Linked DNA regions of Homo sapiens: region 2 is linked to region 1. The links come from fine-mapping of genetic effects on gene expression. A gene starts in region 1. The other region holds a variant in brackets. All regions are shown on one strand. Distances are between the middles of the regions. Region 1 holds the start of ZNF34 (zinc finger protein 34). Region 2 overlaps ZNF251 (zinc finger protein 251).

Region 1 (2,798 bases):
TGTGTGTATGGGGAATCCCAGACCACCCAAGTCCCTTCACCCACCCACCCAGAGCCCTACACTGGACTGGAGCTGGCACCAGCAGTAGGTTGGTCTGCTCCTTGAGTCCTGTAACTCCACAGCTTCGCAGGGCATGTAGCCCCCTCTTCCCTGGGGCAGAGAAACTAACCAGGAACAGCCCCCAAAGCTGCATTGATTACCTTAAAGCACATGGCCTTTCCCTGCTGGCAGGGGCTGATACTTTGGTTCTCTCTAGCTTTGGTAGTGATGAGGCTGACAGTGATGATTGAGTGGAATCAGGTTGGAAGTGTTGGGGAACCCCCCCTGCAATGGGAGGGCAAGTAAGCTGGTTTCCGTCACAAGGCAGAGTGGAGGGGCTTCCTGTTTGGCCATAGCCCATGGCATCTTGTCCCTTAACCATGATCCAATGAGGAGATCCCAGGACAGCATCCTATCAGCACTTTCACACGAGGAAGTTCCACCAGCGAATGCAGCAGCTGCAGATCACTGCCCCTAACAACACTCCTGTGGAACTGCAGCAGGCAGGATGAGGCACGGTCTCTCCCTATAGACTTGGTTGGAGGGTGCCTGGCAGGTGAGAATAGTCACCTTAGGCTTCCGTGGTCACTCCGGGATGACAAGTCCTAACTGGCTGCGCGGTGGTTCCTGGCTGTCATGGTCCACGCTGTCTCTAGAGAACCTTACCCCCCATTTCGTGATCTTGCTTTCCTGATCCTGCTGGTATGGCCCCACCTGTCTTTGGGCGCCCACCACACCTAGGCAGTGACCCAGCAGGGCCTGTTTATTTTAGACAGGCTCTCGCTATTGCCAGGCTGGTCTCAAGCCCCTGGCCTCATGTGGTCCTCCCACTCCAGCCCCGCCTCCCCGCCAGTAACTACGGGACCTGGTTTTGATCTCGTCATTCGCAGGGCCGGTCCCAGGGTCCCAGCTGACTTGTCGAGAAAGAATCCAGGAGGGCGGTGTTTCCTCCTGAAGGATGGAGGGGCATCTGGAAAGAGGGTTTTGGGAAAGCACTAGATGCTTAGCTTGGCCATAAGCGGTCACTGTTTTTCTGCTCCCTTCTGGGCAAAGTGGACGGCAGGGCTTGGCCGATGGACCGGCCATGAGGGAAAGTTTGTTCCAGAAGCAGCTCAGGCACCCGAAAAACCCTTTCTCCAGAGTGGACACTGGGCCCCATTTACAGGAGTTAAGGATGAGGAGCAATAGGTTAAACCCAAGACAGGCTTCTTTGGCCAGTAAGCATCCTTTCTTGGCCCTAAGGAAGGGTGCGGTTCCCGTTTCTCTGTAAATCGAAGGGCCTAGTTCTTGTTTGCGGCGCCTTTCGTGCATCATTAGGGAGAGAATTTCTCAGAAAAAGGGAAAGACTAATATGTTTTCGCCTCTGACCATCGCCCCAGTTCTGAGGCCTCTGGGCCGTGGCTTCGGACTGCCACCCGGTGGCAGCATTCCCGCTTTACGGCTTTGCCATTCGCGGGTCCCCGGAGCCTTACTGCAAGCCAGGGAGGTGGGCAGCCGACACGCGGCGTCCTAGCTTCCCAGAGCGGCCCGGACGGCGCCTCGGACCCAGACAGTCGGCTGACGTCACTTCCGGATCGGTTCCGATTGGCGGGGAGGGAGGGCCGAACGGGCGAGGTTGGGCTGCCGTGCTGCTCGGCGGCGCTGAGGTGAGTGTGAGCCCGGCGGGGGCGGGCGCGCGGGGCGCAGACCCTCCCGGCGCAGACCCTCCCCTGCGCGTTGCCCCTGTGCCCGGTCCTCTCGCGGTGCTGCAGGCGTGGGTCCGTCCCGCCATCAGCGGCACTTCCTGTTCGAGGGACCCCCCGGACAAGGCCCCGAGTACGGACTGCGCCTCGCCGCTCTCTGCCAGCCCTGGGGTCGCTCCTCACGGGGCTCCTTCCGCTCTCGAGCCCCTGACAACTCCCTTGCCCCACGCGGGGTCCCCTGGACTCCTGCCGCACAGAGCGGCTTCTGCGTCCCGATGCGCTCCAGACCCCTTGGTCCCAGCGGCCCGAGGCTTCCCATCCCGGCTCCCTCCCACGCTCCTCTCCTGTCAGCTTTTCAGGGGCGGGGCTCGTGCGTCTCGCGGTCCTCCCAGCCCTCTGCGAATGCCGCCCCTCCTGCCTTTAGCGTCCGCGCTCCGCCAGTGCTCCTCCCTCTGCTTGTGCCTTCCCTCCGCCCCACCCTCCTCGCTTCTGGCGCTCCAAGGCTTTTCTCCCCGCAGCCAGGCAGCCAGATTTTTGTTTCTCTTCTTTATTTTTTCTTTCTTTTCTTTTCTCTTCTCTTCCTTCTTTCCTTTCTCTCTCTCTTTTTCTGAGACGGAGTCTCGCTCTGTCGCCCAGGCTGGAGTACGATGGCGCGATCTCGGCTCAATGCACCTTCCGCCTCCCGAGTTCAAGGGATTCTCCTGTCTCAGCCTCCCGAATACCTGGGATTACAGGCGCCCGCCACCATGCCCAGCTAATTTTTGTATTTTTAGTAGAGATGGGGTTTAACCATGTTGGCCAGGCTGGTCTCGAACTCCTGACCTCAAGTGATCTGCCCGCCCCAGCCTCCCAGAGTGCTGGGAATACAGGCGTGAGCCACTGCGCCCGGCCTCGTTTTCTTATATCTCTACAAACCTAATACTGTTTTTGTCTCTTAAAAATCTACATATGTATGGCAGAGCACGGTGGCTCACGCCTGCAATCCCAGCACTTTGGGAGGCCAAGGCGCGGGGGGGATCACTAGGTCTGGAGATCGAGACCATCCTGGCTAACCCAGTGAAACCCCGTCTCTACTAA
Region 2 (2,798 bases), 46 kb after region 1:
AATCCCCTTTGTTTACCAACGGACACCTATACTGTATGATTCCAACTATGTGACATTCTGGATGAGGCAACACTATAGAGACAGCAAAAAGATCAGCAGTGCCAAGGAGTAGAGAAGCAGGGTGAAGCCAGAGGATTTTTAGGGCGGTGACACTAGTCTGTACAGTACTGCAGTGGTGGATGCAAAACCCATAGATCACGCGGCACCACGAGTGAGCCCTAAACTGAGATTTTAGATGGTCATGATGTGTCAGTGTGGGTTCATTCATTGTGACGCTGTTATCACTGTTGCGGGAGGTAAGTAGTGGGGGAGGTGTGTGGGGGGTGGGGTATGCAGGAACTGTGTTTTCTGCTTAATATTGCTGTGAAATGCTCTAAAAATAAAGTATTTTCAAAAAAATCTCATGTTTCCCCAGATTTTCCATCTCTAGTGCTCTTCATCCCTTTCTGATGATCTGAGTTTCTAGCTGGCACCATTTCCCTTCAGCCCAAAGACCTTTGCATTTCTCGTGGTGCGAGTCTGCTGCCCCAGTTCTTAGTTTTCTCGTGTATGAAAGTACCTTTATTTTGCTTTTTTTTTTCCTTTTCCCATTCAGCACTTTAAAGCTGCTATTTTACTCTTTTCTGGCCTCCTTGACTTTCGATGAGGAGTCAGCCATTCATGGGATCACTGGCTCGTGGTGTGTCGTGGGTCACTCTCCTGCTTTTGAGGTGAGCTGCCTGTCGTTTCGGTTCCCAGCAGGTGGACTCTGATGTACTGCAGCACCGGCCTCTTGGTTTTTACTCTGCTAGGTGTTCATATAGCATCTTGATCCTGTAGATTTCTGTCTTTCATCAAATTTGGGAAATTTTTGACCATTATTTCTTCACATTTCTTTCTGTACCATTCTCTCTCTGGTCTCCTGAGATACCAATTATAAGTGACCATTTGAATTATCTAACAGATTTGTAAGGCTGTTTATTATTTTTAAAATATTTTTATCTGTATTCTTCAGATAATTTCTGTTCATCTCGATTCAAGTTGACTTACTCTTTCCTTTATTGTGCCCATTCAGCTGTTAGTCTGTCAAGTAATGCTTTATTTCAGAGATTGTGTTCTTCAGTTCCAGAATGACTGTTTTATTCCTTTTTATTATTTCTGTGTCTCTGCTGAGAGTTTTCACTCCCTGAGATTTTCCTGTTTTGTTTTACTTCACTGAGGATAATTATAATTCCTGTTTTTAAATCCTTGTCTGTTAGTTTCAACATCTGACTCATTTCAGGGTCAGATGGTTGATTTCCTTTTCTCACAAAAACGTGCTCTATTTTCTTGGTTCTTTATGTGTTTGTTAATTTTGGAGTGGAGACTGTGGATTCTGTATGTATGGGTGTATGTGTATCTGCATCGTGTGTATGTACATGTTTACGCATGTGAGTGTGTGTGAGTGTGTGTATGAGTGTGTGTGTACATCTGTGCAGCTGGTCACCAGCATGTACCTTCACAAGTTAGATTTTGCTGGCATATCCACGAGCTGTCACCACTGTGCCCTGGGCACTGAGCTTTCTGAGGCTTGTGTGTTGGCCTGTCCCAGGGCTCTGCCATCGTCAGTATTGGCCCCACTCACAGATGTTCTTTCCTGGGTTGGGCCAGCTCCTTTTGGACACTTTTGAGATCCACCTCGGGCCC[G/A]TCTGCGTTTGCGATGCTGCTTTTCTGTGGCTCCTTCCGGCTACTGGGACTGTTCCCTTCTGGCATTGCCTTCGGCAGCACTTCGAGGAACTCAGCCTCCAGGGCCTCCTGTTGTCCTTGAAAATGCAGTTTTATTTCATTATTTTTATTTATTTATTTTTGGGGGTTTTTTTTTGTTTCTTTTTTTTTGTTTTTTGAGACGGAGTTTCGCTCTTCTTGCCCAGGCCGGAGTGCGATGGCGCCATCTCAGCTCATCACAACCTGCGCCTCCCAGGTTCAAGTGATTCTCCTGCCTCAGCCTCCCGAGTAGCTGGGATTACAGGCACCTGCCACCACGCCCAGCTAATTTTGTATTTTTAGTAGAGATGGGGTTTCACCATGTTGGTCAGGCTGGTCTCGAATTCCTGAGCTTAGGCAATCTGCCCGCCTCAGCCTCCCAAAGTGCTGGGATTACAGGCGTGAGCCACCATGGTGGCCTATTTTTATTTTTTTTTGAGATTTAGTCTTGTTTTGTTGCCCAGGCTGGAGTGCAGTGGTGCCATCTTGGCTCAGTGCAACTTCTGCCTCCCAGGTTCAAGTGATTCTCCTGCCTCAGCCTCCCAAGTAGCTGGGATTACAGGTGCTTGCCACCATACCCTGCTAATTTTGTATTTTTAGTAGAGACAGGGTTTCACCATGTTGGCCAGGGTGGTCTCGAACTCCTGACCTCAGGTGATCCACCCACCTCGGCCTCCCAAAGTGCTGGGATTACGGGCATGAGCCACTGCGCCCAGCCTGAAAATGAAGTTAAAACACAACAAAACTTCATTTTGCTTGTTTGTATTTTTCTGTTGTTATTATTTTTGAGACGGAGTTTCACTCTTGTTGCCCAGGCTAGAGTGCAATGGCGCGATCTCGGCTCACAGCAACCTCCACCTCCCGGGTTCAAGCCATTCTCCTGCCTCAGCCTCCGGAGTAGATGGGATTACAGGCATGCACCACCACACCTGGCTAATTTTGTATTTTTAGTAGAGACGGGGTTTCTCCATGTTGGTCAGGCTGGTCTCGAACTCCGGACCTCAGGTGATCTGCCCGCCTCGGCCTCCCAAAGTGCTGGGATTACAGGCGTGAGCCATGGCACCTGGCATGTATTT

Evidence for each region. PIP is the estimated chance that this variant, and not a neighbour inherited with it, causes the effect. A credible set is the group of variants that fine-mapping cannot tell apart.
Region 2: its variant is the best candidate, but not a certain one, in a credible set for the expression of ZNF34 in blood mononuclear cells (TOPMed, PIP 0.85).

What each region holds. Positions count from the first base shown.
Region 1 is chr8:144,786,166-144,788,963 of GRCh38, reverse strand. It overlaps ZNF34 (zinc finger protein 34), which reads left to right and starts at 1,647. Exons shown (of 6, transcript NM_001286769.2): 1 at 1,647-1,685. RefSeq lists enhancers at 1,079-1,138, 1,179-1,408 and a silencer at 1,559-1,918.
Region 2 is chr8:144,739,997-144,742,794 of GRCh38, reverse strand. All of the region lies in intron 4 of ZNF251 (zinc finger protein 251), which reads left to right. All of the region lies in intron 1 of LOC107986986 (a long non-coding RNA gene), which reads right to left. Among named protein-coding and RNA genes, the nearest start is that of ZNF251, 14 kb to the left of the region's middle. The variant G/A (reference allele first, on the strand shown) is at 1,666.